Regions from separate parts of the Homo sapiens genome. Here regions 1, 3, 4 and 5 are each linked to region 2. Evidence: fine-mapped expression QTL. A gene starts in region 2. Each other region holds a variant in brackets. All regions are shown on one strand. Distances are between the middles of the regions. Region 1 overlaps H6PD (hexose-6-phosphate dehydrogenase/glucose 1-dehydrogenase). Region 2 holds the start of H6PD (hexose-6-phosphate dehydrogenase/glucose 1-dehydrogenase). Region 3 overlaps MIR34AHG (MIR34A host gene). Region 4 has its middle 21 kb from the start of LINC02606. Region 5 overlaps H6PD (hexose-6-phosphate dehydrogenase/glucose 1-dehydrogenase).

Region 1 (6,163 bases), 36 kb before region 2:
TTTAAAAAAGCAAATATAAAAAGGCCTCATACAGTGAATGCTGAAGGGGGCAATCTCCATGGATTAATATTCTCATCCGAGTGCTTACTGTATTTTATTTTTTTCAGTAAAAAAATAAAGACATACGGAGTAGGAGGAGGGCCTGACTGATAGCATGAGCTTAGTTTGATAATTTTTCCTCCCAACGATGCTTCTTCAGACAAACAGAACTCATGAGGCTGGGTTTCCGCAGCCAGTGAGTGGGGACGGGGGAAAGGAAAGGGCTGTAGTGAGACCTCTCCAGGGGGACAGAGCAGCCCTAAGCTGTTGGGGGCCCCCCTGGCTGCCATCCCTGCTGCAGCGTCCAGCAGTGGGCGCTGACCGTGGCTTTGCTCTCCATCAGCAGCCAGTGGGAGCTGTCAGGAGCGGGGGTCAGACCTTGCCCTGCTTCTGCGTGGCCCTATCCCACGGTGCCAACAAGCGTGGTGGCCTGCCATGGCTGGACCACATCCATTGCACCCCTAGGCCCTGGCCACTCTGGGCACAGGAGACCCATGTGCTTAGACCCTCCCTCCCCTAGAGAGGATGACACGTGCCAGGCTCACCGCTGGCCCCACACCCGCTCAGGCCTCCACCCCTCCAGCCGCCTTGCTGACCACTCTCTTTCCTTATTGCCATTCACTCATTCATTCACTCACACATTCACTGCAGGGCGGCGTGTAAAGTGCCAGAAACACGAAAAGGAGCAGAATGTATGGAGTCTCTGCCTTCGTGGTCCTCAGCCCGACAGGTGAGTGGGAAGATGGGGGTAAGAGAGGGCATGGGTGGAGCCGCATCCCCTCCCCTTCTGCTGGGAGCTGGGTGGCGAGGGGCAGCTGGCTGACCCCACCCGGGCTCTGGCTGTCTGTAAAGAGCTTGTAAGAGACCCTGGAGAAGGTGGACTCAGGCTGGCAGCTCCTGAGCTTGTCTTCACCACGGCTTCTTTTATGATTTGCGCAACTCTTCCCCTCCTGCCCTTCCATCTGTCCCTGCATCTCCAAAACTATGGTCTATCAGGAAAACAGTTCCAATTAAGCAAGAAGAAACTGATGCTGCACAGCAGGGGCCACCCAACTGGTGTTGCCACACTGGACTGCTGAAACCCTGACCCCAAACAGAAGGATCTGTCCTCTTGGTTCATGAGAATCACCTTCTTACTTAGGTCAGTGTGGGGTTTCTGCTGGGCTTCCGGAAATACATAACAAAGCTACTAGCTCCAGTATCTATTAAGTTCTGCTGCTACAAGGTAGTTTAGGCACCCAGAAACGAGGCCCGCAGGCTGACTTCAGGAGACTGGAATCAGGTCCCAGAGACAGCCCCCGAAGTGGGATCCTGGGGCTCTCCTCTCCTCCATGCCAGCCTTGTCCTTAGGCCTCCGTGGCGCTGAGATGGCTGCTGCAGCTCACCAAGGCCTGAGTCCAGAGAAATGGTGCCGCTTCAGCCTGAGTCCTCGGGGTCACTCTGATTTGACCAGTTTGGGCCCTGAGCCCTCCCAGATCCCATTGCTGCGGCTGTGGGCATTGGATGTCCTGATCGGCTAGCACTGGGTCACACGCCCCATGCCTGCCATCGGAACTCCCCAGAACACATGTATGGGAGGGTCCCCAAACGGGGGCTGGACACCAGGTGACCCTCCAGTGCAGCCCTCACAGACGCTGGCTGGGTCCCACAGTCCTGCCCCGCCATGTTTCTGTGAGGACTGTGGAACCAGCAGCCATCACCACAGAGAAGCAGGGAGGGGACGCCCTGGGCTACCCCCCGGGAAGCAGCAGATCCCCCGCGCGCCTCCCATCTGAGGGACAGGCAGGGACGGTCACTGCAGCTCTGGTTTCTGGCCTTCGTGACATCTTCCCTTGCAGGCTCTGGGCATGTCTCACCCGTCTCTGTCCCCTCTGCCATGGGGTCCCTGCCCAGAGCTCACCTATTTCGAATGTGTGCGCTGCTCCTTTTGCCACCTTGTGATGTCACCAAGCCTGTGTGGGTCCTGCATGCTGTTGGTGACAACCTGCAAATCTCTAACTTCTGTACCTCAAGTGGTCCTGAAATCCTATTTGACTTCCCCAAAACACTTACATTCCTGGGAGTGTGACACAGCTTGGAGGTAGGACTCAGGCAAGGGACAGGAGAGAAGACAAATGAAGGCATCAGGCTCTGGTGTCCTCAAAGACCCTCCCCTCCCGATCTCCCACTCAGGGGTGAGCTCCTTCCCCTCCAGTGGGCTGCCGGGAAGGTTGGGGGACTCTTCCTAGACTGCTTGGGAGTCTATGAAATGAGATCATCCTGCCCACTGCTCTCTCTCCCATGAGGCCCACAGACCCTCTTGCAAACGGAATGCACTGGCTTGCTCAGTCAGACACACTTACACTCGCAACAGGCACGCGGCTGTCCTCGGTTCAGGGCCCTCACTCACGGCAGCCCTCCCCTCCTCCAAGAACACACACAGCATGACGCTGGGGCCCACAAACCCCTACACCTCATGCCCCAAATAAAGAATTAAAGCCCGGATTTTGGCAAATCAATTTTATTGTTTAAAAAAATAAACGTTACATTTGACATAGAAAAAGACATTTTAAAAATGTTCTTAAAAGGTTTAAAAAGGCATTTGTTCTGGCCAGGCATGGTGGCTCCCGCCTGTAATCCCAGCACTTTGGGAGGCC[A/G]AGGCGGATGGATCACCTGAGGTCAGGAGTTCGAGACCAGCCTGGCCAACATGGTGAAACTCCGTCTCTACTAAAAACACAAAAATTTGCTGGGCATGGTGGTGTAATCCCAGCTACTCGGGAGGCTGAGGTAGGAGAATCACTTGAACCTGGGAGGCAAAGTTTGCAGTGAGCCGAGATCGCGCCACTGCACTCCAGCCTGGGCGTCAGAGCGAGACTCTGTCTCAAAAAAAAAAAAGCATTTGTTCTGAATGTGCCTCATCATCCCAGGCAGGCATCTGTAAGTTTCCATTGTTTCCACAAAAACCAGTGGGGTTCCCCTCTCTGGAAAAAAGCACGAACATTCTTGCTGCTTGGCAATGGGTGGCTCTCATGCCCACACCTCTCCACCCAAGGGAACAGTCTCTCTGCTCCTCACCTGGCAGAAGCCCAGACCCTGAGTCCCTAGCGCGGGGCAGAGCACAGAAACATGATCCAGATGCAGCAGGCCCCGCCCGTCTAGTTCTCCTGCAACAGCCTCTTAGCACTGCTCCACTCTGACCTGCCCGGCTGGAATCACAGTTCCCACTCCGGCACAGGTAAAGATGAGCTCCCAGGATCCAGCAGGGGCTCTGCCCCTGGGGATCTGCCGCCAGCCGGCTCTTCCCGGTGGACAGAACTAGGAGGGGCAGGCTGTACCCAGCACATCTCAGAGAGATGGAGGCAAGCTGGGTTCCTGATGATTTCCAGCTAATACAGGTCCTTCCTCCTGCATGCAGGCGCCCCGTAACGCTTTATAACAGACGCCTCTAGACTTCTGTGGGGGTAAAGTGAAGGACCCAAAGCGACACAAGTAGTGTCTGTTCACACTTCCACTTTCAAAGCTAACTACTAGCTGTTCAAATATACTCCATACAGCTTTCAGCAAATCAAAGTGTTTACCTCTCCCACACCAAGGGAAGAAAAGATGCAGACTGCCTTTAAAGCACCTGTCAGCAAGGCGAGGGTTTTAAAGATCAGCCTTGAGAATCAAAGCAGCAGCAGAAGTGTCATTACTCCAGTGCTCTCCCTTCCCGTTCGTGGGTCACACAGAGACAGGCACATCCCCAGCGCTTTGCAAACAGAAGCGCTCCCAAAAGTTGGCTAGAGGGTACACTTCGGCAAAGGGATCATCTTCCCCCTGGCTTGCTGGACTCTTGGAAATGCGTCTGAAAGCCCTTGCCATCCCGTCTTGTGCTGATGACAGCATGAGCCCGGTTGCACCTTGCTCAGCAACAAGCTGCGAGATCCTCAGCTTCTCACTCATACCCCACCTTGAGCTGCTGACGGCGGCCTGGAGAACCGTGTGTGGCTGTTCCTGGATGACATCTGCTGTCACTAGCCTTCCCAGAACACCCGCTGCCCAGGGTTCCTGCTGCCTTCCCCGGTGGACAGATTTTGCAGGGAAGACTGAGGAAATGGGAGGGGGAGCTCTGCTCTAAAGCAGAAGGCACAGAAGGTGGGGTTTTTGTTTTATAGGGAGACTGCCCAGTGTGCTGCAAAAGGAAAACCAACAACAGGGAGTGCCCAACTCACCCCCTCTGCATGAGCAAATGCAGATGGACACTGGACTGTGCCGACTGACACCGGGACTCACACTTGCTGGTCAGTGGACGAGAGGTAAAAGCAGGCAGGATTATTACAGGAATAAATCTGCACTTCCAAAGAGGCAGCTCCCATGACTGAGTTACAATGCTTGGAGCCCCCGAGGGCAGAGTGGCACCAGCTGGGAGGTTGACACTGCATCACTGCTTCGGATGCCCTCACAGGCTCTGACTCGCTGCCAGGTGCTGGTGAGGCTGGAAGAACTTCCTTCCTTCCTATGTACAATGCAAACAGTGCCGCTTCCAGTGCTACCCACACGGGTGCAGCCTCACGGGAGAGTTGCGGAGAGAGGGAATGCGTTCAGTTCAGCCAGCGGACGGCCAGGGGTAAGCGGCCCCTAGTGGGTCACATGGCCTATGATGTCTGGAGACCGCAGATCTTCACCCTCTGGAGTCTCATTTGCAGAGTCTCATTTGTCGTCCGGTCACTGTGGCCACCTCACCCTCGTCACCACGGGCCTTTCCTGTGCCGTGCTCACTCTGACACTGAGATGCTGCCAGGCAGTTTTTTTTTTTTAAATCAGTGGAGTAAGTTCTAAGGGAGCCCCATGTGCTTAAGATAAAAACGTAGCTGGTAAAGTGGAGGCAGAGGCTGCTTCTGTGAGGCTGCATATATCTTACAGGACAAAAAGTTTTGTACTTGAAAACCAAATTCTGGGAAATAGCCCTGCAGGTTTTTGGGAAGCGTCTCCCTCCCTGTCGTGAGTTCCACCTGGGCCCTCCGGGAGAACAGGGACAGGAGAAACACAAGCAAAGCAGACAGGCCCGGAATTGGGAGCCTGAGCCCTGCATATTTTGGAAGGGAACCCCTCGAGGGACTAGTCTGGAATAGTAGGCCAAACGGTAGGAAGCTTTGATTACTCTGCTAACTTGGGGGCCCAAGAGTAGGGCTAAAGCATTGTCTGCAGAGAAACAAACAGGGAAATTCAGTAAGAAGGGCCTATTTTAACTTGCAGTTAGCAGGAGAATTTGTCCCCAGATTTTGATCTAGCTTAAAGTCCCTTGATTCCTTCCCCTCTACAAATGGCAATCACGGTTGCCCTAGAGATGCTGACTGACAAGGTCTCCCAAAGGAGGGGCCCTTCTGCCATTTATGGGCCCCTAAGTGCACACGTGGGCTTCCATGCGGATGGAATCATTGGTCCCCACCAGGGAACCTGGACTGTGGGAGCTGCCGCCACCATAGGACCCAAGGGCTTCCAGACCAGGAAGAGGCAAACAGCCTGCCTGGGAACACAGTGCTGGAACTTGGGACTTGGGTTCTGAGCGGGGCTGCTCCCTGGGCTGTTGTCATCACTCTTTCCTTTTTTTTTTTTTTTTTTTTTGAGATAGGGTCTCACTCTGTTTTCCAGGCTAGAGAGCAATAGTGCAATCACACCTTACTGCAGCCTCAGTCTCCTGGGCTCAGGTGATCCTCCCACCTCAGACTCCCGAGTAGCTGGGACCACAGGAGGGCACCACCATACCTGGTTTTAAAACTTTTTGTAGAGATGGGGTCTCACTATGTTGCCCAGGCTGGTTTCAACCTTCTGGGCTCAAGTGATCCTCTCACCTCAGCCTCCCATAGTGCTGGGATTACAGGCATGAGCCACACCTAGCCCAATTTAGTGAATTTTAAGAAGCATTTTAAAAAAATGAAAACTAAAACATAGAGGATATCCGAGGTTCTAAGGTTAAGAATTTCTTTATGAAACCTGCTTGGAACACAGTTGTAAACAAATGGACTGATTTATGATGGAAGGCACGTTTCTTGCTGCAGATCATGGTCTGAAGTTTGAAAGCCACCAGCCTAGAGGGTTCTGAAAACTTCTCCTTCCTAACACAGCTGAAGGAAAAGGGGTGGGTAGGGGCGGAGGCACAGGGACA
Region 2 (6,163 bases):
AATATACTGTATGATAATTACATTCATTTTGCCTATTGTCTGCCATTCCTTTTCCCAAGAGTGTGCGTGCCAATGAGGACAGGGACTTTTGTTTGTTTTGTTCTCCGCAGTACCTCCAGTATCCAAAACAAGGCCTGGCATACAGAAGGCGCTCTATAAATATCTGCTAAATGAACAAATAAATCCCATTTGCACAGGACCACTGTCATTTCTGCATTTGAAATACGGCACAAAGGAATATACCTCTAATGGTGACTTCAAGCACTGTGACACAGCACACAGCAGCAGCTTACTACTTGGAACAACACTTTTAATAATAAAAGAGCTATTTATGGAGTATTTAACTATATGCCAAATGCTAGGCTATCGGTGTGACATGCATCACACCATTTAAATCTTGCCACAACCATATGAGGTAGGTAACATGATTATCCCCATCTTAGCAGGGAGTAGAGAGGAAACTAAGGCAAAGAGAAGTCAAATAACATGGCCAGGCGCAGTGGCTTACGCCTATAATCCCAGCACTTTGGGAGGCTGAGGCAGGAGGATCATTGGAGGTCGGGAGTTTAAAACCAGCCTGGCCAACACGGTGAAACCCCGTCTCTACTAACAATACAAAAATTAGCCAGGCGTGGTGGCAGGTGCCTGTAATCCCAGCTACTTGGGAGGCTGAGGGAGCAGAATCACTTGAACCTAGGAGGCGAACGTTGCAGTGAGCTGAGATTGCGCCCCTGGGCAACAGAGCAAGACTCCATCTCAAAAAAAAAAAAAAAAAAAAAAAAAAGAGAAGTCAAATAACTTACCAAAGGTCAAGCAGCTAGAGGTGATAGGATTTGAATACAGGCAGTCTGGTCCCAGAGCTAACCTTCCCGTAAAATGTGACTACATCCCTGAATGGCAAAATGTAAAACACTGTATTACATTTACACTGTATCAGTGTAGATACTGAACAGTGGTTTAAACCAGACAGGCTGTTTCTCTGCTCCATGAAGTCAAGCTGTTCCGAACACTAACTGCGGTAACCAGCCTCTGCCTCCCGGGTCCGCTTTGCCTTTCACAGTTCTTCCTTCTGACATCATGAAGACATCATGTATAAGCCTCAGTTGCTTTGTTGAAACGTGGAAGACCTTCAAGGGCTAGTTTTTGGAGAACTGGTTACATAAGAATATTCTGGATTCAAATCCCTGCCACTCAGTAACTATGTACCCTCAGACAAGTTATTTAACCTCTCTGTACCTCAACCACAGAATGGGAAAACAAATCGATGGGAAGCATGTAAGGTACTTAGCACAATGCCTGGCATACAGTAAGCACCCAAGAAATCCTAGCTGCTTTTTTTTTTTTTTTTTTTTAAGGAGAAGTCTAGCTTTGTCACCCAGGCTGGAGTGCAGTGGCACGATCTTGGTTCACTGCAACCTCCGTCACCGGAGGCAGGGCGGTTCAAGCGATTTTCCTGCCTTAGCCTCCCCAGCAGCTGGGATTACAGGCATCCGCTGCCCCCATGCCCAGCAAATTTTTGTATTTTTAGTAGAGACGGGGTTTCACCATGTTGGCAAGGCTGGTCTTGAACTCTTCAAGTGACCTGCCCGCCCTGGCCTCCGAAAGTGTTGGGATTACAGGCGTGAGCCACTGGGCCCGGCCAGAAATGTTAGTTTCTATCATTAAACCATTAGCTTCACGAATGAAGTCCTTCTTGCTAGCTTCTTGAACTGCTGTTAAAACCAACTAACCAGCTGGGCGCGGTGGTTCATGCCTGTAATCCCAGCACTTTGGGAGGCCGAGGTGGTGGATCACCTGAGGTCAGCAGTTCAAGACAAGCCTGGATAACATAGTGAAACCCTGTTTCTACTAAAAAATACATAAAATTAGCCGGGTGTGGTGGCACGCGCCTGTAATCCCAGCCACTCAGGAGGCTGAGGTGGAAGAATCGCTTGAACCAGGAGGAGAAGGTTGCAGTGGGCCGAGATCGCGCCATTGCACTCCAGCTTGGGCAACAACTAACCATCAACCACAGAAAAATGCCAAGGAAAAACTCAGACAGCTTTTCATGATCTTCCAATCATAATGATGAAAAATTAAAGGGATATGATGCATAATTTAAAATACGCTGTCTGGGCGTGGTGCTTCACACCTGTAATCCCAACACTTCGTAAGGCTTAAGCAGGAGGATCGCTTGAGCCCAGGAGTTCGAGACCAGCCAGGGCAACATAGTGAGACCACTGTCTCTACAAAAGGTTTAAAAATTAGCCAGGCGTGGTGGTGTGCGCCTGTGGTCCCAGCTACCCCGGAGGCTGAGGCAGGACGATGGCCTGAGCCCAAGAGGTGGAGGCTGCAGGGAACCGTGTTTGTGCCACTGTACTCCAGCCTGGGCAACCAAGCAAGACCCCATCTTTTATAAGTAAAAGATTTTTTACTTTTATATAAAAAAGTAAAAAGATAAAATAAAAAATATGCCCATTTGACACCAGTTTTCCCTCATCTGCTGCCTTTCATGAGCCATGGGCCTGTTGTGGGTGCAGGGGGAGTGGGCAAGGACACTTCTTTCCAGAAGTTCTCACTTCTGGCTAAGCATTCAAGGTTGGGTGAGCTGATTTTCAGAGATCCAGAGAGGTTTGCCCCTGGAAAACCGTTCACTAGATCCGGGTACGGGAAACGCTATGTGAAACCCGAGGGCCAATCAATGCCAAAGATTAAGCAGGTCCCGGGGGAAATCTCGGAGTTCCCCCTCTCCTGGAACTCAGTTCCGGGAAGCCCAGGGAAAGGACAGCTCGGCCGCTCGGGGCGACCCTGGAGGGAGCCTGGCCGCCTCCTGAGCAGTTCCAAAGCCGCCAGCCCCAGGCTCCGTGGGGCTGGCAGCGCAGGCTCCGGGGCTCGGCGCGGCCTCGGGCCCGGCGGCAGCGCGGGTTGGAGGCGCCGGGGCCGGGGCGGCGGCGGGGCCGGCGGGGGGCGCTTACTTCCTCTCGCGCGGCGGCGCAGGCCGCTCCTCCGGGACACGGCCGGGGCGGCGCTGAGGGCCGGGCCCGCTCCCGAGGGCTCCCCTGCGCCCTGGGCCGCACCTCCTCTTCCGCAGGGCCCGTCACTCCGACAAGTGCGCGTGTCACGCGGCCACGCGCCGCACGACACTCCGATACCGCCCGCGGAGCCCGCGGCGGCCGCAGGGGAAGGCGCGAGGCCAAGGCCAGCCCGGCCGCCACCCCGCCCCAGGCCTCAGGCCTCAGGCCTCCACCGCCTTGCGCTCAGCAAGACTGGGGCCCGGGCCGGGGGCGCGCGCGGCGGGGGCGCGCGCGGCGGGGGCGGGGGCGGGGCGGGGGCGCCGGCGAGGCCACGCCCTCCGCTGGCGGCCGCCGGGGCGGGGCCTCGGAGCTTCCGGGGCGAGGCGGTGGGTCAGCTCCGAGCCTCCGCCCCCGCCCTTCCCTTCGGCCCCCTGGTGGCCGTGCGTCCTAGAGCTGTCCTGCCGCGTCCGAGACGCGCGCGGGACCCAGAAGTGGCCGAGGGACGTGGTTGTGTCGTGGAGGGGACCCGGGGTGCTGGCTGCTCCCTACGATCTGGCACCCGCTCTGGGACTCCTCAGGCCTCGCTTTTCCCCATCTGTAGAATGAGCGGCTCGGTCTTTCCCGTCTTCAATATCCAGAGTAGGGATTTAGAAGTCGGAGCGCACACGCTGGCCACGCCTCCGCGCACAGCTTCAGATCTCTGCCACCCCTTATCACTTGTGTGACCCTGAGTTCAGTTTCTTCATCTGTACAGTGGGGACAATGGGAGTACCTGCCTCCGGGGTTGTCTGGCACTTGGGTGCTTAGTAAGCGGAAGCTTGGACCCGTGTGGCAAATAGAAGACTTTTGCTAAGACATTGCTAAGAAAGACAGCAAATGGAATCAGGGCTTCTCTGTAGGGTGAGAGGTATTTAAGTGAGAAAACGGGATCAGCTGCCTCTCAGAGCACTCAGTCCCCTTCCTGTCCCCCACCATTATCAGGCAGTAGGTGGCCCTCACCATGCTCCCCAACCTGCTCCCCACTTTTTCTTTTTTCTTTCTTTTCTTTTCTTTTTTTCTTTTTTTTTTTTTTTTTTTTTTTTGAGACAGGGTCTCGCTCTGTCACCCATGCTGGAGTGCAGTGGCGCTATCACAGCTCACTGCAGCCTCCGCCTCCCAGGCTCAAGTGATCCTCCCGCCTCAGCCTCCCAAGTAACTGGGATCACAGATGTTCGCCACCACTCCTGACTAATTTTTCAACTTTTTGTAGAGACGGGGTCTCACTTTGTTGCCCAGGCTGGTCTCGAACTCCTGGGCCCAAGTGATTCTCCCACGTTGGCCTCCCAAAGTGCTGGGAGGAGATTCTGACCTGAGAGAGAAACTGTGCTGCAGCTTTTTATTTCCCGATGGTTCCATTAGAGGTGGGAGCGTCTGGAACTAGCAGTGGCAACTTGGCAGTGGCCGGCAGGACTGAATGGGGCCAACAGGCATGATTACCACACAGGATGTTAGGCAAGGGGTTCCGGGAAGGCTGGGAACTGAGGGGAGCTGGGCCTCACCGTCACCAAGGCCAGAGGCCATCCGGGCGCCCGCAGAGGGCTGCCAAGCCTCGGCAAGGATTTAGGTCACACTGAGTGGGCCTGGCAGAGGGGGGAGCCAGGGAGCCAGGCACTCTCTGGGCTACCTCCACAGCTGGAAGTGAGCAGGAGGGCTTAGGGCAGGAGCGGGCCAGAGCAGACTCGAATGATGCCGGGACTCTTGGCCTAGAGCCCTTCCCATGTTCTGTGGCCCTGAGTGTGTCAGGCACCCACATAGCTCTGAAAACCAGGGCCCAGGAAGGCACAGATAGAAGTGGGCAGGTGTCCAGAGGCATGACCGGGGGTTCGTTTCCCAGATCTCCATGTGGCCATCAGAGGGTGATCTGCTACCTTGAGGGCTTCTTATAAATAGCCCCAGGTCAGGCGTAGTGGCTCATGCCTGTAATCACAGCACTTTGGGAGGCCGAGGCAGGTGGATCCCCTGAGGTCAGTAGTTCGAGACCAGCCTGGCCAACATGATGAAATCCCATCTCTACTAATAATACAAAAAAAAAAAAAAAAGCCAAGCGTGGTGGCGTGCCTGTAGTCCTAGCTACTCAGATGGCTGAGGCACGAGAATCGCTTGAATCCAGGATGCAGAGGTTGCAGTGAGCCAAGATCGCGCCATTGCACTCCAGCCAGGGCAACAGGGTGAAACTGTGTCAAAAAAAAAAAAAAAAAAAGCCAGGCACGGTGGCTCACGCCTGTAATCCCAGCACTTTGAGAGGCCGAGGCGGGTGGATCACCTGAGGTCGGGAGTTCGAGACCAGCCTGACCAATATGGTGAAACCATGTCTCTACTAAAACTACAAAATTAGCTGGGTGTGGTGGCGCATGCCTGTAATCCCAGCTACTCGGGAGGCTGAGGCAGGAGAATAGCTTGAACCTGGGAGGTGGAGGTTGCGGGGAGCTGAGATCGCGCCACTGCATTCCAGCCTGGGCAACAAGAGTGAAACTCGGTCTCAAAAAAAAAAAAAAAGAAAAAAAAACAAAGCCCCAAACCAAGTCAGTTGTAACCTGCTTACTAAGAAAACGTCCACCTGATTAGGTAACGTTGGGGTGGGGTCTGAGGGGGGAATTAGCCTAGGGGGTCACAATGCCCTCCCAACCCTATGTCCACTCCCACACCACCCTGAGATGTTTCATTTCTCCGCCTGTCTTTCCTCACCTTACCTTCACCTCAGTCTCATCCTGCCTCTGTACCTTCCAGTTTTCTCTGGGCAATCAGTTGCTTTGCTTTCTTTCCATCATGAAGACGATTAGGTCGTGCTAAGACCCAGTCATCCTGGTGTGAGAGTACTGCCACCCAAAACACAAAAATCGAAAACTTTGTCCCTGTGGGCCCTGGCATTGGTTTCTGCACCTTTGCCTGTCTGAAGCTTTTCTTGTTTCCGTGCTGACCGCAGCTACAAGGGACCAGGTGTGCCCAGAACCCCGTGAAGGAAGCCGGGAGAATGAAGGAAGCCGGGAGAAAGGAATGATGCCCCATGGGTGGTCCAGGGGGTGTCCTGTGACCAGAATTCTGTCTGTGGTTTATCTCGTGCTTTATAAGGAGCGCCCTGGGGCTCTATTTATGAAGTGGATTTTTGGGGATTTTTCTTCCTAGCCCTTTAA
Region 3 (6,163 bases), 64 kb after region 2:
GTTCAAGCGATTCTCCTGCCTCAGCCTTGCAAGTGGCTGGGATTACAGGTGCATGCCACCACGCCTGGCTAATTTTTGTATTTTTAGTAGAAACGAGGTTTGACCATGTTGGCCAGGCTGGTCTTGAACTCGTGACCTCAAGTGACCCACCTGCCTTAGTCTCCCAAAATGTTGGGATTACAGGCGTGAGCCACCGCACCCAGCAAGTGTTTTAGACAGCTAAAGATTCATCCTGGCTGGGTGCGGTGCCTCATGCCTGTAATCCCAGCACTTTGGGAGGCTGAGGAGGGAGGATTGCTTGAGCCCAGGAGTTCGAGACCAGCCTGGGCAACACGGCGAAACACTGTCTCTACAAAAAAATCAAAAAAGATGAAGCAGGAGGATTATTTGAGCCCTGGAGGTTGAGGCTGCAGTGAGCCATGACTGTGCCACTGCACTCCCTCCTGGGTGACAGAGCGGGACCCTGCCTCAAAAAAAAAAAAAAAAAAAAAATTCCTCCCTGTACCGGCACTTTTCAATTGTTTCGTTTTTGGTTGGAAGTCTTTCCAGAATATAATTCATGCTTCCCTCTTCTTAAAACAGAATAAACACAATTTTACCTGGCCTCAGGTGGCAGGGCTTTTTTAAGTGTCACGAATGTGGTTTATAGAATTTCCATTTCTTCTCTTGTTCTCTTTCTCTCACTTGTCTTTCCTTGTTCTTGCCGGTGAATCTGATTTCAGCAAACCTTTCCCTCCCTTCCAAGTTGCTGCTTCTAAATTACTGTGGGGTCAGGAACCCTCATTCCTATTTAGGTTAAGATTTTGAAATAAGACCATCTTGGATGATCTGGGTGAGCCCTAAGACAGGTGTCCTTAGAAACAGAGGCAGAAGGAAATTTAAGACAGTCAGAAGAGGAGAAAACACAGACACACAGAGAAGGCCACTGAAAGACAGAGGCAGAGACTGGAGTGATGCAGCCAGCCCAGGAATGCTGGGACAGCCACCAAAGGTAAAAAGAGACAAGGGAGGCTTCTTCAGGCTGGATATGGTGGGTCGTGCCTGTAATCCCAGCACTTTTGGGAGGCTGAGGCAGGTGGATCATCTGAGGTCACGAGTTCGAGACCAGCCTGGCCAACATGGTGAAACCCCATCTCTACTAAAAATACAAAAATTAGCCAGGCGTGGTGGCGTGCACCTGTAATCCCAGCTACTCGGAAGGCTGGGGCAGAATTGCTTGAACCTGGGAGGCGGAGATTGCAGTGAGCCAAGATCATGCCACTGCACTCCAGCCTGGGCGACAGAGTGAGACTCTGTGAAAAAAAAATAAAAAATGAGTTCATACAGTGGAGTTCAAGGGCAAGCTGGGCCTCACCCCAATGTCAGAATGAGGGGCCAGAGGTCATTTGGAAACAAAGCATTGCTTTGATTCATCACTTTCCTTTAGCTTAGCTTTAGTTGTGCTATTTACTTGATATTGAATTTCAGCTGTGAAGTTGGGAGTGGAGTGAGTGTTTATCCAAGGAGAGTATTGATTAACAGAATATGAGATATTAACAAAACACCATGTTGAGGGTAACAGTATGTTCTGAGGAGGGACAGGAACTTGAGCGCAGGAGTTTGAGCTGCTCAGAGACTTTCTTTTTTTTAAGACAGTGTCTTGCTTTGTTGCTCAGGCTGGAGTGCAGTGGGGTGATCATGGCTTACTGTAGCCTTGACTTCCCAGACTCAAGCCGTCCTCCCACTTTAGCCTCCCAAGTAGCTGGGACTATAGGCATGTGCCACCATGCCTGGCTAATTTTTTTTTTTTTTTGTAGAGATGGGTTTCGCCATGTTGCCCAGGCTGGTCTTGAACTCCTGGGCTCAAGCGATCCACTCACCTCAGCCTCTCAACGTGCTGTGATTACAGGCATGAGCCACCAAAGTGCTGTGATTACAGGCATAAGCCACCGTGCCCAGCCCAGAGGCTGCTTTCCTACCCTGTCTCTCTGTAACAACCCCATTGCAGTTGTGAATGAGCTTATTCGTGACTCCAGGAGTATAATAATTTCCTGTGGCTGCTGGATGGCTTAAATTATTCTCTCACAGTTCTGGAGGCCAGAAATCTGAAATCCAGCAGGGCCATACTCCCACTGGAGGCTCTAGGGAAGAAGCCTCCCTTGTCTCTCTTTAGCTTTGGTGACTGTCCCAGCATTCCTGGGCTGGTGGCTGCATCACTCCAGTCTCTGCCTCTTTCAGTGGCCTTCTCTGTGTGTCTGTGTCTTCTCCTCTTCTGACTGTCTTAAATTTCCTTCTGCCTCTGTTTCTAAGGACACCTGTCTTCGGGCTCACCCAGATCATCCAAGATGGTCTCATCTCATAATCTTAATCAGCTCCGCAAAGACCCACATGCTCTGGTTGCAGGGATTTGATGTGGCTATCTCTCCAGGGTGTTTTTCAGTCCACTGCAATGAGTGACGCAGTAAAAGAATGAAGAACAGTGCCTGACGCGTAGTGGGGCCGCTGTTGATATTGCTATTGCTGCTGTTTTTGGATTACTTCTCATCCTTTCATTCATTCACTGGTTATCCAGGTATTGGCCCTGGCTCCCCATCATGCTAGGTGCCAAGGGGGAATAAGTGAAGTGAGGCACCCTGACCCACGAGGGGATGATGCCCCATGTTGCTGGATATCTGAGGTCCCACAGTACAATGGACTGTCCTGGCTGAGCCTACAAACCTGCCACACTTATGGTATTGTGACTTTGGGGCGTGGCATTCCTAGTTGCAAGCAGCCAACTTGCCAAATAACCTTGTGAAAAGTCCAAATCATTGTCAACTTATGAATTAGGTGTACTTGGCCGGGCACGGTAGCTCACGCCTGTAATCTCAGCACTTTGGGAGGCCGAGGTGGGTGGATCACCTGAGGTCAGGAGTTCGAGACCAGCCTGACCAACATGGTGAAATCCTGTCTCTACTAAAAATACAAAAAATTAGCCACGCGTGGTGGCGGGTGCCTGTAATCCCAGCTACTCGGGAGGCTGAGGCAGGAGAATCACTTGAACCCAGGAGTGGAGATTGCTGTGAGCTGAGATCGTGCTACTGCACTCCAGCCTGGGTGACAGAGCAAGTCTCAGTTTTAAAAAAAAATTAGGTGTACTCAAAGATGGTCTGAAATGGAAGTGTGACTCCCTGCAGTTACAGTTTTGTTTTTTTATAATTTTTTTGAGACAGAGTCTCACACTGTCACCTGGGCTGGAGTGCAATGGCATGATATCGGCTCACTGCAACCTCCACTTCCCAGGTTCAAGCGATTCTCCTGCCTCAACCTCCTGAGTAGCTGGGACTGCAGGTGTCTGCCACCACACCTGGCTAATTTTTTGTATTTTTAGTGGAGATGGGGTTTCACCATGTTAGCCAGAATGGTCTCGATCTCTTGACCTTGTGATCCACCTGCCTCGGCCTCCCAAAGTGCTGGGATTACAGTCATGAGCCACAGC[G/A]CTCGGCCCCAGTTACAGTTTTTAAAGCACTTTCCCATCTGCTGCCTCACCTGTGTTTTCTGGGCTGACGACAGACTAAACACCTGAGGCTCAGCCTGATCATTAAGCTCTTGAAGGATTGGAACGTGCGGTCCGCTGACAGCGCAGGCTGGCTGGCAGCGCTGCCCGTCTTTTTTTGCCCACTCCTCCTCCTGTGCTTTCTCAACAGACCTTTACTGGCACTCACTATGTCCTGTCTGCTGGGCTAGGTGCTGGGAGTAGGAACAGGAAGCTGACACTCAGTCTGGTGAGAGGGAGGTACAAGCGAGTTGGCCACCATGATGCAGGGAGACGTGTGATGCTTGGGGTGGGCACTGGGAGCCCATAGCTGAGTGAGGGGGGTTGTAGGGCGCTTAACCGAGGCCTGAAGGATGAGTAAGAGTTACTTGTGAAGCTAGAAGGGTGGGGCCTCAAGGCAGAGAGGCTGGCCCCAGAAGGCCTGGGGGGCATAGAGCCAGCATCTGAGTGAGGAGGGCCCTGGTCTGTGAGCTCAGGGACACCTCCCCTTATGCTGCCTGCCTCCACCCAATCTCCTTCAGTGAGCTGGTTTGTGGCTGAAATTCAGCCATTAGAGCTTCATTCTTTTGGCTTAAGCCAGATAGAAAATGTATTCCAGTCCTGGCACCATGGCTCACGCCTATAATCCCAGCACTTTGGGAGGCCGAGGCGGGTGGATCACCTGAGGTCAGGAGTTTAAGACCAGCCTGGCCAACATGGGGAAACCCCGTGTCTGCAAAAATACAAAAATTAGCCGGGTGTGGTGGTGCACACCTGTAATCCCAGCTACTTGGGAGGCTGAAGCAGGAGAATCACTTGAACCCGGGAGGCAGAGGTTGCAGTGAGCCAAGAGCATGTCATTGCACTCCAGCCTGGGCAACAGAGCGAGCCTCTGTCTCAAAAAAAGAAAAGAAAAGAAAATGTATTCCATATTCAAATGCAGAATCCACTGAAGATGAGTCTCCTGCGGCACCAACCCATTCCACATCAGGGCATCTGGTATTTACCCAAGGGTAGGTTTTGCCATGAACCAGGGGTCAGGCAAGGGCCAAAGACACCGAGTACTTGTAGATGTGATTGGAAAGCAAATCATCTCTATATGGGGACAGGAAGAGAGAGGACAGCGCTTGGTGGTCCACACATGTTCCTTGGGCCAGCCGTGGGCTATCCCCCCACATTCAGACATTGGGTCCTGACACTCTTTATAAAAACACTCTGTGTTGAGTCCCTTCCCTGTGGATGGAAGGAAGTAGGTTTCCTCCAGGAACGCATGGCCCAGTGTGGTGAACTTGTATCTGCTTGGCTCCTGTCTCTTCCACTGCCTGCTCCCTTGCATCCCAGATCACTGGTTCACCCCCAGGTCTGGCAGCCTTTACAGAGTACCAGGACCCCGGATGGGGGCTACAGGGAACTGTGCTTCTCCCATGTGACCCAGAGAGGCAGCAAAGGGACTTCTCCATCTAGCCCACTGGAAACATTGCTTTTATTTGCCTTTGCACCATATATTCTTTTTTTAATTTTTTTTTATTTTTTAGAGACAGGGTTTCACCATGTTGCCCCGGCTGGTTTCGAACTCCTGGGCTCAAGTGATCTGCCGGCCTTGGCCTCCCAAAGTTCTGGGATTACAGGTATGAGCCACTGTGCTCAGCCCTGCACCATATATTCTTGAACTAAAGACACATACACACACGCATGCACACACACACACACACACTTTAGATTATTTTGAATATTATCAACCTATCCATTTTCCTTGACATTTTTCAATGTATAGTATGTCCTCAAAATATGATGTTATGCCCACATTGCATTTATTTTATTTTATTTTTAGAGACAGGGTCTTGCTCTGTTGCTCAGGCTGGAGTACAGTGGTGTGATCATAGCCTACTGCAGCCTCAAAATCCTGGGTTCAAGCGATCCTCCCTCCTCAGCCTCTTGAGTAACTGGGACTACAGGTGCACACCTGGATGATTTTAAAATATTTTTTTAGAGATGGCCTCTCCCTGTGTTGCCCAAGCTGGTCTCAAACTCCTGGGCTCAAGAGATCCTCCCACCTCAGCTTCCCAAAGCATTAGGATTACAGGTGTGAGCCACCGTGCCTGGTCTGAATTTCTTGCTTTACATGTTAGCTGGGAAGTAGATGCCCTCAAGAATGGTGGAGCATATGAGCTGTCCCTCTAGGTCAGTCCCATGGCCACCCAGCTCCAGCCCTGTCTCTAGGTGTGTGAATCCCTTTTGCACAACAGAGAGCCTGGGGAGGTGGAAGGTCTTGGTGACACCTTGTGAGTTATTCACACTGGCTGTGGGTGACAGAGCCAGAGGTGGGAGCACAGAGCTCTCACAGCACAGAGGAGTAAGGAGTTGAAGCTGCAGAAACAATGCTGAGGCCTGAGGTGGAGGAACAGTTGTAAATGGAAAATTAGACGGCAGTTCTGCAGGTTGGAAAGTGGGTGATAAAGTGGGCGTGCAGGCACCATTCCAGGAGGCTGTGCCTTGTGTGCATTGAGAGCAGGTCAGGTGGCCAGGAGGCTCCAAGCTTAAAGCTGCCAGGTGAGCCAAGCATTTTTTTTTTTTTTTTTTTTTTGAGACAGAGTCTCCTTCTGTCACCCAGGCTGGAGTGCAGTAGCGCGATCTTGGCTCACTGCAACTTCTGCCTCCCAGGTTCAAGTG
Region 4 (6,163 bases), 170 kb before region 2:
AGTGTGGTGTGGTAGTGTGGTGTTGTGGTGTGGTGTTGTGGTGGTGTGGTAGTGTGGTGGTGTGGTGTTGTGGTGGTGTGGTAGTGTGGTGTTCTGGTAGTGTGGTGGTGTGGTGTTATGGTAGTGTGGTAGTGTCCTGGTCAAAGGGCTTTCTGCCACCACGTTATCTTCTTTTGCAGGCCGACTGTTGCAACTTTATTCTACTGCATTATACAAGCAGGGACTGTGCTATCTGGAGGCCAGACCAGACTGGTAGAGAAGTATCTTAAGTGTTTCCTGACACCACAAATCCCCAAACACACTTGTGGTTCAGTTTCTGCTCACGCTACCCGACTTAAGTAACTTGTGCAGGACTCCAATCATCTCAGCATTAAGCCCTCCTGCACTCAAGGCCTTGCTCTGTGGCCTTTGAGCCTCAGCTTCCTGAGCTGTAAAATAGAGCTAGTAAGACCTTTCCTATAGAGCTGTAGGGGAATGGGTTCACGGCACGGTGGAGCTGACTTGTACTGACTCAGGAGGGTTGACTGATGATTTTCAGAAATCATTGGAGCCAGTTTGTAAATACAGCCATCATTAACAATTAAGTTCTATACACTTACGATTAAATAAATTATATTAAAAACAAAGCTCTAAAGACTCAAGACTCCTGGCTTCCTAATTATCTTACTACATTTTACCTATGCCCTGAGGTTATTTATATCCATGGTCTCTGCCTTGTGGAAGTGCTAGTAATGGTGGCTACTGAACACCTCTTCCCAACTCCACATTCAACAATGTCACTCTGGGACCTCAAAACCAACTGCGCTGGGAGTATTTACACCACAGAAATGGGCAAATGCTCTCAGCCAGGGCTTTCTTTACTCTTTTGTTGATTTTCTAGATTTAAGAAAGCAATGGAGAAAATGTTAATATTGGCCAGGCACGGTGGCTCACACCTGTAATCTCAGCATTTGGGAGGCCGAGGTGGGCAGATCACTGAGGTCAGGAGTTCAGGACCAGCCTGGCCAACATGATGAAACCCTGTCTCTACTAAAAATACAAAAATTAGCTTGGTGTGGTGTCGCATACCTGTAACCCCAGCTACTTGAGAGGCTGAGGCAGGAGAATCACTTGAACCCAGGAGGTGGAGGTTGCACTGAGCCGAGATTGTGCCACTGCACTCCAGCTTGGGCCACAGAGTGAGACTCCAAAACAAAAAGTTAATATTGCAAATTAAACTTGAAAGTGAATTGTACTTCTAGCAATAACATTGTGAATAGTACAAAAGATAAGGAACTATTCTCCCAGTATTCAAAGCTGTTATCCAATTTAGCAAAAAAAAGTAAAGTTCCAATATATAGTTGTCCCTTGGTATCCCAGACCCAGCCACCCAGGTGGAAGAAGGAGCCCAGGACCTGGAGGACACAGAACAGTGGAGGTGTCAGGCCAGGCCTGTGAGGTTTGGAGCTGGACCTGAACAGGATGGGGCCTCCAACTCTATCACTCCCACCCACCAAAGGGCAAGCTGGGCCCTGGCAAGTTGCAGGCCGAGAGTTTGGAAGCATAGGCTCCAGGTGTGAGTTCAAACCCTGGCTGTGACATTTATTTATTTATTTTTTTATTTTGAGACGGAGTCTCACTCTGTCACCAGGCTGAAGTGCAGCGGCGCAATCTAGGCTCACCGCAACTTCCACCTCCCGGGTTCAAGAAATTATCTTGCCTCAGCCTCCCAAGTAGCTGGGATTACAGGTACGCACCACCACGCCCGGCTGATTTTGTATTTTTAGTAGAGACGGGGTTTCTCCATGTTGGTCAGGCTGGTTTTGAACTCCCGACCTCAGATCCTGACATTTATAAGCTTCAATCTTGGGCAACCACTTACCTTCCTTCCCTGAGCCCTTGTTGTCCCATCTGGACCCATTAGTTTCAGGACCCTCCCTTGGATACCAAAATCCACGAATGCTCAAATCCCTTATATAAATTGGTGTAGTAGTTGCATATAACCTACACATATCCTCTCGTATATCTGAAATCATTTCTACACTACTTATAATACCTAATACAATGTAAATGCGGTGTAAATAGTTGTTATACTGTATTGTTTAGGAAATAATGACAAAAATAAGAAGTCTGTACATGTTTGGTACAGATGCAACCGTCCATTTTTTTTGAATGAATATTTTAGATCCATGGTTAGTTGAATCCATAAATGTGAAATCCACAGATTTAAAGGGCCTGCCGAATGTCTTTTTTGTTTCACTGTTTCTTACTCATTGACATACATGAAAATGCCAATCAACCCTCATATTAGAATCACACTCACTCATCAATACCATGAGCTATTTCTGGGCCAGGCTCAGTGGCTCACGCCTGTAATCCCAGCACTTTGGGAGGCCGAGGTGGGTGGATCACGAGGTCAGGAGTTTGAGACCAGCCTGACCAACATGGTGAAACCCCATCTCTACTAAAAATACAAAAATTAGCCGGGTGTGGTGTTGGGCGCCTGTAATCCCAGCTACTCAGGAGGCTGAGGCAGGAGAATTGCTTGAACCCGGGAGGTGGAGGTTGCAGTGAGCTGAGATTACGCCATTGCACTCCAGTCTGGGTGACACAGCAAGACTCCATCTCAAAAAAAACAAAACAAAACAAAACAAAAACCAAAAAAAACTATGAGCTATTTCTTTTGTTGGGTCAGGTAGTAATCAAGCACTTATTTGTGGTAGGATTTATACTCTATGTTCACATATGTATGTGTACTCTCCCCCACCCCAACCTGCCCTCCAGATAGCTGGTTGTTCAGCATTTACCCCGCACAGCACAGAATGTGGCCATGGATGTGAAAATTCTTACCACAGAGACAGGGCTCCACGATGTCAGCTCAGCGATGGCCCTGTGGCTGGAACCCTTTGGAAAGGCGACATGTGTGTCTGAGTTGAGGTGGAAACTAGTTCTTTTTTTTTTTTTTCTGAGACTAAATCTCGCTCTGTCACCCAGGCTGGAGTTCAGTGGCATGATCTCGGCTCACTACAACCTCCTCCTCCCGGGTTCAAGCAATTCCTCTGCCTCAGCCTCCTGAGCAGCTGGGATTACAGGCGCATGCCACCATGCCCGGCTAATTTTTGTATTTTTAGTAGAGATGGGGTTTCACCATATTGGCCAGGCTGGTCTCGAACTCCCGACCTCGTGATCTGCCTGCCTTGGCCTCCCAAAGTGCTGGGATTACAGACATGAGCCACTGCGCCCAGCCAGAACTAGTTCTTTTACTTTATTTATTTATTTATTTATTTGAGATGGAGTCTCACTCTATCACCCAGGCTGGAGTGCCATGGCACGATCTGGACTCACTGCAACCTCTGCCTCCTGGGCTCAAGCAATCCTCCTGCCTCAGCTTCTCAAGCAGCTGGGACCACAGACATGTGCCACAATGCCTAGCTAATTTTTGTAGTTTTGATAGAGACAGAGTTTCACCATGTTGCCCAGGCTTGTCTCAAACTCCTGAGCTCAAGTGATCCTCTTGCCTTGGCCTGTCAAAGTGCTGGGATTACAGGCATGAGCCAATGTGCCTGGCTGAGTTATTTTACTTTATTTATTTATGTGTTTATTTATTTTGAGACAAGGTCTCACTATGTTTCCCAGGCTGATCTTGAACTCCTGGGCTCAAGCCATCCTCTCACCTCAGCCTCCCATGGTGCTGAGATTACAGGCATGAGCCACCACCCCTGGCCAGAACTAGTTCTTGTAATCATGGCCTGGAGGTCCCACTGTCCCTTCCCATGA[A/G]GACACCTTGGATGGGCGTGTTCTGGGCACAGGTGAGGTATCTGGGAACTCCAGGGGGGAGCCACCTGGTTTGGGCAGATCCAGTGCCCACCCATCTTGGGAGCTGGTCCAGGAACCCCAGGTTAACCTGGACTGAACAGGTTGGAAGGGCAGGATCAGGGCCTAGGTGACTTCTTGTGGTTGGGGGTCAGGGGAGGCCTTGAGGAGCACACTCTGAGTGAGCCCAGCCCAGCAGACAAAATTTGAGCTCTGGGTCATTTGCACTGAGTCATTTGTTCATTCGTTCAAACAGCATTCAAGAAGCATCGTTCAAACAGCATTCAAGAAGCATCTGGTCTGCACCAACACTGGGCTGGGTCACACAGCTCATTTATCTTTTTTTTTTTTTTCGAGATGGAGTCTTGCTCTGTCACCCAGGCTGGAGTTCAGTGGTGCCATCTCGGCTCACTACAACCTCCACCTCCCAGGTTCAAGCGATTCCCTTGCCTCAGCCTCCCGAGTAACTGGGACGACAGGTGTGTACCACAAATTTTTATATTTTTAGTAGAGACGGGGTTTCACCATGTTGGCCAGGTTGGTCTTAAATGCCTGACCCCAGGTGATCCACATGCCTCGGCCTCCCAAAGTGCTGGGATTACAGGCGTGAGCCACCGTGCCTGGCCATTTATCTTTCTTGATACTTAATATAGACTATTGTTACCTTTGCTGATAGTTTGTTGATACTGGAATGGATTGTTATGGATGATTACCATGTTCCAGACCAGGCTCTGTGGTGAACAAGGCTCTCATGGAGCTTGTAGTTTCATGGGAGATAATGAAGTAACCAGGAAATTCCAACATCGACCTGGGGTCTATGAATGGGCTTGGAAGAGGGGTGTCTGTAAATCCTCTGCAGTGGGGATTGTGTGTGTGTGTGTGTGTGTGTGTCTCAGGAGGGGGCTCCCAGGCTAGGACCTTCCCAAAGTCCAGACACAATTGTAATAGAGTGTAATCAGTGTGATGACAGGAAGTTCAGGGTGCAACAGACGGGCTGGGGGTGCGGGAGGGCTCCAAGGAGAAAGGCAGAGTGGAGAGCAAGAATATTCTTGGCGAAAGAAACAGGCCCTGGAAACTTGAGAGGGCTGCTGGAGTTGGTGGTGGTGGTTGTGGGGTGATAGCAGGTGCAGGAACAGACGGGCCTGATCAGGAAGATATGTAAATAGTGACTCTAAGCGCGGCTCTCTAGTTAAGCACATAAGCACATGTTGGTGGAGTGAAAATGATCAGGAGACAGGAAGCTTGCACCTGAACGTCTACAAGGGAGGAATGAAAGATTCTTGAATATCTGAGGACACCCTTCCTGGGGAATTTCATCCAAACCCCCTTCTTATGCCCCCTCATAGCTGAAATCCCCTCACAGTGTTCTGCACCCCTACCCCTTAGGTAGCTAGATTTAGCAAGTATACAGGTCACTCAGTTAAATTTGAATTTCAGATAATCCATAAATAACTTTTTTTTTTTTTTTGAGATGGAGTCTCCTTCTGTCACCCAGGCTGGAGTGCAGTGGCACAATCTCAGCTCACTGGCACCCCTGCCTTCAGGGTTCAAGTAATTATCCTGCCTCAGCCTCCCAAGTAGCTGGGACTACAAGTATGCACCACCACGCCCTGCTAATTTTTTGTATTTTTGGTAGAGATGGGGTTTCCCCATGTTGGCCAGGCTGGTCTCAAACTCCTGACCTCGAGTGATCCACCCACCTTGGCCTCCCAAAGTGCTGGGATTACAGGCGAGAGCCACGGCAGCCAGCCCACAAACAACTTTTTAGTGTATGTGCCGTACAACATTTGGCAACTCTACACTGCCAGCGCCTGCCTGAGCTGGTCCCTTGGCCAGCGTTCCCTCTCTCCAGCCATCCCTCTGGGTGGGTTAGCTGCTGAGTGAGATGGGCTGGGCTGAGCTCAGCATGAAAGCAGGAATCTGGGGTCAGAACCAGATGCAAGGAGGAGTCCAGGATCGGGAGGACACAGAGCAATGGAGGTGTCAGGCCAGGCCTATAAGGTTCAGAGCTGGACCTGAACAGGATGGGGCCTCCAACTCTATCACCCCCACCCACCAAAGGGCAAGCTGGACTCTGGCAAGTTGCAGGCTGAGAGTTTGGAAGTACAGGCCCCAGGTCTGAGTTCAAACCCTGACCCTGACATTTATAAGCTGTGATCTTGGGTGGCCACTTACCTTCCTTCTCTGAGCCCTTGTTGTCCCATCTATCAAACGGTAATATTAATACTAAACAGAGGTGGTTGTGAAGATTACAGGGGACATGGGGCACTCAGCACAGTGTCTGGTGTATCCTGAGTGCTCAATAAATGGTAGGCATGATCGTCACGTATGCTATTATGTATCTTTATACAATAATTATTTATGACAATAA
Region 5 (6,163 bases), 23 kb before region 2:
GGGAAAGTGGGAAGAAGAGAAAAGGAAGTAAACAAAATTACAGAGCAGTTGTGACAGAGGGTAATGAAAAGGCCCCTCCGAGACCTGAAGAGCCAGCCTCGCAAAAAGCCAGGGAGAAAGCATCTCAGCTGCAGGGACCCTCAGGTGCCAAAGCCCCGAGGCAGGAAGGAACTTGGTGTGCTGGGGGCCAGATGGAGGTGAGCAAAGAGTGGGGACAGCGGTGAGGCTGGAGAGGAGATCAGGGGTCTTGCAGGATAAGGCGAAGAGGCTGGACTTTTTTCTAAGATCAGTTGTAGGGGGGACACTGGAGGATCTGAGGCAGGAGAAGACGAGACCTGACCTATATTGGGGATCGACCCCTGGTCTTGGGGGGAGAATGGGTGCAGATGCAGGGAAGGCAAGGAAGAGGCTGCACAGCTGCCCAGCAGAGACGACAGGGCCTGGACTAATGGGCAGTACAGGAGCTGGAGGGGAGGGAGAGGCACCCCAGAGTCAGGATTGACTGGACCTGCTGACAGATGGGGTGGGTGTGAGCAAAATGGAGGCCCCCAACATGAGCCCTGGAAGTGGGGCCTGAGCAGAGGGATGGGCAGTGGAGGCGCTCACAGACACGGGGAGGCGGAAGCAGAGGGGTTTGGTGGAGGGTTTAGGTGTGTTTAGGCTGAAGACCCCCAGGCGCAGATGTCCAGTTGTCAGGTGTACGGGGTAACTGTGACGATAAAAGGGAAGAACACCTGGAGAACATGGAGCAGCACGACCAGCATAACAACAGCAACATAACAACACCAGCCTAACAACACAACACCAGCATAACAGCAGTGCAGCAACACCAGCGTAACAACAACATAACAACACCAATGTAACAACAGCAACATAACAACATTGGCGTAACATAACAACATCAGAATAACAGCAGTGCAACACCAGTGTAACAACAACATAACAACAGCAGAGTAACAACGGCAACATAACAGCAGCAACGTAACAACACTGGTGTAACAACAGCAACGTAACAACACTGGCGTAACAGCAACATAACACTGGTGTAACAACATAACACCAGCATAACAACAACAAAACAACACCAGCATAACAACATAACACCACCGTAACAACAGCAACATAACAACACTGGTGTAACAACAATGCAACACCAGTGTAACAACAGCAACATAACACTGGTGTAACAACAATATAACAACACTGGCGTAACAACAGCAACATAACAGCACTGGCGTAACGACAACATAACAGCACTGGTGTAACGACATAACACTGGCGTAACAACAGCAACACCAGTGTCAACAGCAATGTAACAACACCAGCATAACAACAACATAACACCAGCTTAACAACAGCAATATAACACCAGCTAACAGCAACGTAACAACACTGGCGTAACAACATAACGACACCGGCGTAACAACAGCAACGTAACAACACCGGAGTAACAACATAACACCAGCATAACAGCAGTGCAACAACACCAGCATAACAACATAACAACAGTAACATAATACCAGTGTAACAACAACATAACAGCAGAGTAACAACAGCAACATAACACCACCAGCATAACAACAACGTAACAACACTGGCGTAACAACAGCAACATAACACTGGTGTAACAACAACATAACACCGGCGTAACACCAGCATAACAACAACAAAACAACACCAGCATAACAACATAACACCACCGTAACAACAGCAACATAACAACACTGGTGTAACAACAATGTAACACCAGTGTAACAACAGCAACATAACACCGGTGTAACAACAATATAACAACACTGGCGTAACAACAGCAACATAACACCGGTGTTAAGAGCAATGTAACAACACCAGCATAACAACAACGTAACACCAGCTTAATAACAGCAATATAACACCATTGTAACAGCAACGTAACAACACTGGTGTGACAATGTAACAACACTGGAATAACAGCAACATAATACTAGTGTAACAACCACATAACACCAGCATAACAGCAACGTAACAACACTGGCGTAACAACAATATAACAACACCAGCATAACAACATAACAACACTGGCTTAACAGCAACATAACACTGGTGTAACAACAAGTTGTTGTAACACCACCACCAGTGTAACAACAACACAACACTGGCGCAACAATGGTGTAACCATACAACACCAGTGTAACAACAACATAACAACACTGGTGTAACAACAGCAACATAACAACACCGGTGTGGCCAGGCATGGTGGCTCACGCCCATAATCCCAGCACTTTGGGAGGCCAAGGCAGGCGGATCACGAGGTCAGGAGATCGAGACCATCCTAACATGGTGAAACCCCGTCTCTACTAAAAAATACAAAAAATTAGCTGGGCGTGGTGGCGGGCGCCTGTAGTCCCAGCTACTTGGGAGGCTGAGGCAGGAGAATGGCGTGAACCCAGGAGGCAGAGCTTGCAGTGAGCTGAGATCGCACCACTACACTCCAGCCTGGGCGACAGAGCGAGACTCTGCCTCAAAAACAAAAACAAACAAACAAAAAACATCAGTGTAACAACAGCAACATAACACCATCATCGTAACAGCAATGTAACACTGGCATAACAACATAACACCGATGTAACAACAGCAACATAACAACACCAGCGTAACAACAACATAACAACAGTAACACAACACCAGCATAACAACAACATAACAACACCAGAGTAACAACAGCAATGTAACAACACTGGTGTAACAACAACATAACAACACCAGCATAACAATGTAACAACACCGATGTAACAGCAGCAACATAACAACACCGGTGTAACAACAACATAACACTGGTGTAACAATGTAACACCAGCGTAACAACAACAAAACAACACCGGCATAACACTGGCACAACACCGGCATAACAGCAACATAACAACGGTGTTAACAGCAATGTTACAACACCAGCATAACAATATAACACCAGCTTAACAGCAATGTAACAACACTGGTGTA[A/G]CAGCAACATAACACCAGTGTAACAACACAACACCGGCATAACAATGGTGTACAACACCGGTGTAACAACAACATAACACTGGTGTAACAACAGCATAACAACAGCAACATTAACACTGACATAACAACATAACAACACTGGGATAAGAATGACAACACCAGTGTAACAACAACATAACACTGGTGTAACAACAATGTAACAACCCTGGCGTAACAATATCGGTATAACAACGTAACAACACGGGTGTAACAACAGCAACGTAACAACACTGATGTAACAACACCAACATAACACCACCAGCGTAACAACAGCAACATAACAACACTGGCGTAACAACACCGGTGTAACAATAGCAACGTAACAACACCAGCATAACAACACCAACGCTGACAGCAGCCCCGGCCCGCGCCGCTCCTCCCCATACTCACAAAGACCCTGCACGCAGGCACCGTGATCACTCCTGCTCCGCGAGTGAGGAAGGAGGCAGGTGACCAGGCGCGGGGGCAGAAGCAGACACTGCTTAACCACGAGCTCCGCTCCACTCCCTCCTCTGAGGCTGAACCCCGGTGAGCACTGATTATCGGTGACTCGAATATACAGGACAGTCCCAGAGATCAGGGTTCCAACGCATACCACCTCGCAGGAGAGTTCCAATGCCCAAGTCTCCTCACACCCTCACCTACAGAGAGAGCCTGGCCTCAGACACGAGGAGCCATCATTTCTCAAAGGCTTCTGCACGTAGGACCCCTAACCTGGGATTTGTTTGTTCACCCAGCAAACTCCCAGTCATCCTTAAGGGCTCAGCTTCTAGGAGCTTTGGCCTACCCCTTCTGAGGGGCCCTGGCTTCTTCTAGCCCAGCTGACTGTAATTCAGGCCTGTTTCTCTTTCTTCCCCACTACGAGGGAGGCTCCATCTGAGTGGCATCTGCCCTCTGCTGCATCCCTAGCCCCTAACACAGCACTACGTTCAGACAGTGGACAGCAGAGAAAATGAAGATCCACACATTGTCACGGATAAACCTCCAAGACGTAATGTGGTGAGAAAGCAACATGATTACTTTGATAAAATAAAAATTAACTTGAAAATAGGATATAGGCCAGGCGGACTGGCTCATGCTGGTAATCCCAGCACTTTGGGAGGCCAAGGCAGGAGGATCACTTGAGCCCAGAGTCCAGGAGTTCAAGACCATCTTGGGCAACAAAGTGAGACCCTGTTTCTACAAAAAATTAAAAAAAAAAAATTAGCCAAGTGTGGTCCCAACTATTTGGGAGGCTGGGGTGGGAGGATTGCTTGAGCCCAGGAGGTCAAGGCTGCAGTGAGCTGTGAACCTGCCACTGCACCCCATCTGGACAACACCGCATGAGACCCTGTCTCAAAAAAAAAAAAGAAAGAAAAAGAAAACAGGATATAAAGTGACCAAAATAAACAGAACTTCAATAAATGAAAAATATAATTGGAAACTAGAAATTCAGTAGATGGGCCTTACAGATGAGAAACAGCTGTAAAGAGTCAGCTAGCAGAAGACAGAGCTGAGGCGATTCTCCCAAATGCTGGACACAGAGACAAAAAGATCCATGCTCGGACACATACAGGATGACTCTTGTTCAAAATTAAACAACAGGTTGTTTAGGGAACCAGGCGTGCATGGAAACAGAAAGAGAAGCGAGGGAATAATCTATCCACAATTTGGAAGTGTAAGATGAGGAAATAGGTCAGAACGTGGGGAGGGACACGCAGGAGAATCAAATTCTTTTTTAAAAACGGGTGGTAGGTGCATCCCCGTTTCTTATACCATAGTTCTGTATCTCTTCCATGCATTCTGTAAACTTTAAATTTACCTAGTATCTAGTTAACATTTAATTCCAACAGACAAAAAGCAGCAGATCCTAAGTTCAGGCCTGCTGAGCCCAGCATGCTCCCCTCCCAGCAGCCACTCTGGGTCCATGGCGCCAGTCCTGGGCACCTGCCCTGACCAGGTTGGTGGTGTGCACTCTCGGGCCAACCAGACAGCAAGCATGTCCAGGTCATGGCTGGGGGAACAACCTGCCCTGAATCCAGCCCGATATGCCATTCCCGACAGCAGCACCAGTGTTGGGGGGCAAGAAATGAAGCCGGCAGCCACTCGTAGGAAGGCACTCTGTCCCCGGCCATAACAACCAGGAGCTAGAGGGTGCAGCTCTGTCCAGGGATACTAAACCTTGAAATGAGCAGGAAGTCCAGCCCAACTGTGCCAACCAAAATGCCAAGAGTGGTCTCCACTGGGAAAACAATGGCTGAGATCCCCCAGCTCTGTAGTGTTGTGGCCTTCAAGTTCTTGTGCTATTGTTGAGAAGACATCCAGAAAAAGAGAAACTGATGCCAGCAATGTTTGTGGATCAGTCCATTTATCCTCAGAATAACAACATATAAGGAGGCCCCTCTATTTCCCCTATTTTAAAATATAAGGAACCTGAAGTTCAGAGAGGTTGGATAACTTACCCAAGGTCACACACAGCTGGTAAAGAGGTAAAAATAGCTTCAAACCCAGGCAGTTCGACCCAGAGCCTGCAATTCTTACCACCAAAACATTTCCCTTTTAATTACCCACTCTTCAACCCTACAACAGAACGGTGTGAAGTTGAGTGGCGTGGGCACCACTGGCCTTTAGAAACAGAGCACAATGAAGAAGCCGGCTGAGCTTCTGGAAGGAGGGGTCTAGGGCAAAGCTCAGAGATTCCAATGCCTACCGGGGCCAGCAAAAGCGAAAAGGATGGAGTAAGGCTGGTGTCCCTCAGAGGTACAGTTAAGTACCTCAGGTGCATTCAGGTGGTGCCTCACAGGAGTGTGGGCCCAGGGTGACCAAATCTTCCAATTCTCCTTTTCGGGAGAATGTAAAAAGACAATTCTTCCCTTCCCCTGCAATAATAGAACAGGAAAATCAGGAATATCTTGCATTTGAAAGGGACCTAAGGCCTGGCACAGTGGCTTATGCTTGTAATCCCAGCACTTTGGGAGGCTGAGGTGGGCAGATCTCCTGAGTCCAGGAGTTCAAGACCAGCCTAGGCAACATGGCAAAACCCCATCTCTACAAAAAATACAAAAATTAGCTGGGCATGGTGAAATACACCTGTGGTCCCAGCTACTTGGGAGGCTGAGGTGGGAGGATCACTTAAGCCTAGGAGGTCGAGGCTGCAGTGGGCTAT

What was found. PIP is the estimated chance that this variant, and not a neighbour inherited with it, causes the effect.
Region 1: its variant is fine-mapped to the expression of H6PD in whole blood (INTERVAL, PIP above 0.99).
Region 3: its variant is fine-mapped to the expression of H6PD in whole blood (INTERVAL, PIP above 0.99).
Region 4: its variant is fine-mapped to the expression of H6PD in whole blood (INTERVAL, PIP above 0.99).
Region 5: its variant is fine-mapped to the expression of H6PD in whole blood (TOPMed, PIP 0.91).

The regions. Positions count from the first base shown.
Region 1 is chr1:9,267,698-9,273,860 of GRCh38, reverse strand. H6PD (hexose-6-phosphate dehydrogenase/glucose 1-dehydrogenase) reads right to left here. Exons shown (of 5, transcript NM_004285.4): 5 at 2,524-6,163. Among named protein-coding and RNA genes, the nearest start is that of SPSB1, 22 kb to the left of the region's middle. The variant A/G (reference allele first, on the strand shown) is at 2,676.
Region 2 is chr1:9,231,858-9,238,020 of GRCh38, reverse strand. It overlaps H6PD (hexose-6-phosphate dehydrogenase/glucose 1-dehydrogenase), which reads right to left and starts at 3,247. Exons shown (of 5, transcript NM_004285.4): 1 at 2,955-3,247. RefSeq lists a silencer at 2,835-3,394.
Region 3 is chr1:9,167,553-9,173,715 of GRCh38, reverse strand. All of the region lies in intron 1 of MIR34AHG (MIR34A host gene), which reads left to right. Among named protein-coding and RNA genes, the nearest start is that of LNCTAM34A, 12 kb to the left of the region's middle. RefSeq lists enhancers at 3,183-3,682, 3,683-4,184. The variant G/A (reference allele first, on the strand shown) is at 3,458.
Region 4 is chr1:9,405,076-9,411,238 of GRCh38, reverse strand. No RefSeq gene overlaps it. Among named protein-coding and RNA genes, the nearest start is that of LINC02606, 21 kb to the left of the region's middle. The variant A/G (reference allele first, on the strand shown) is at 3,757.
Region 5 is chr1:9,255,349-9,261,511 of GRCh38, reverse strand. The region is part of intron 3 of H6PD (hexose-6-phosphate dehydrogenase/glucose 1-dehydrogenase); the gene reads right to left. Among named protein-coding and RNA genes, the nearest start is that of H6PD, 24 kb to the right of the region's middle. The variant A/G (reference allele first, on the strand shown) is at 2,980.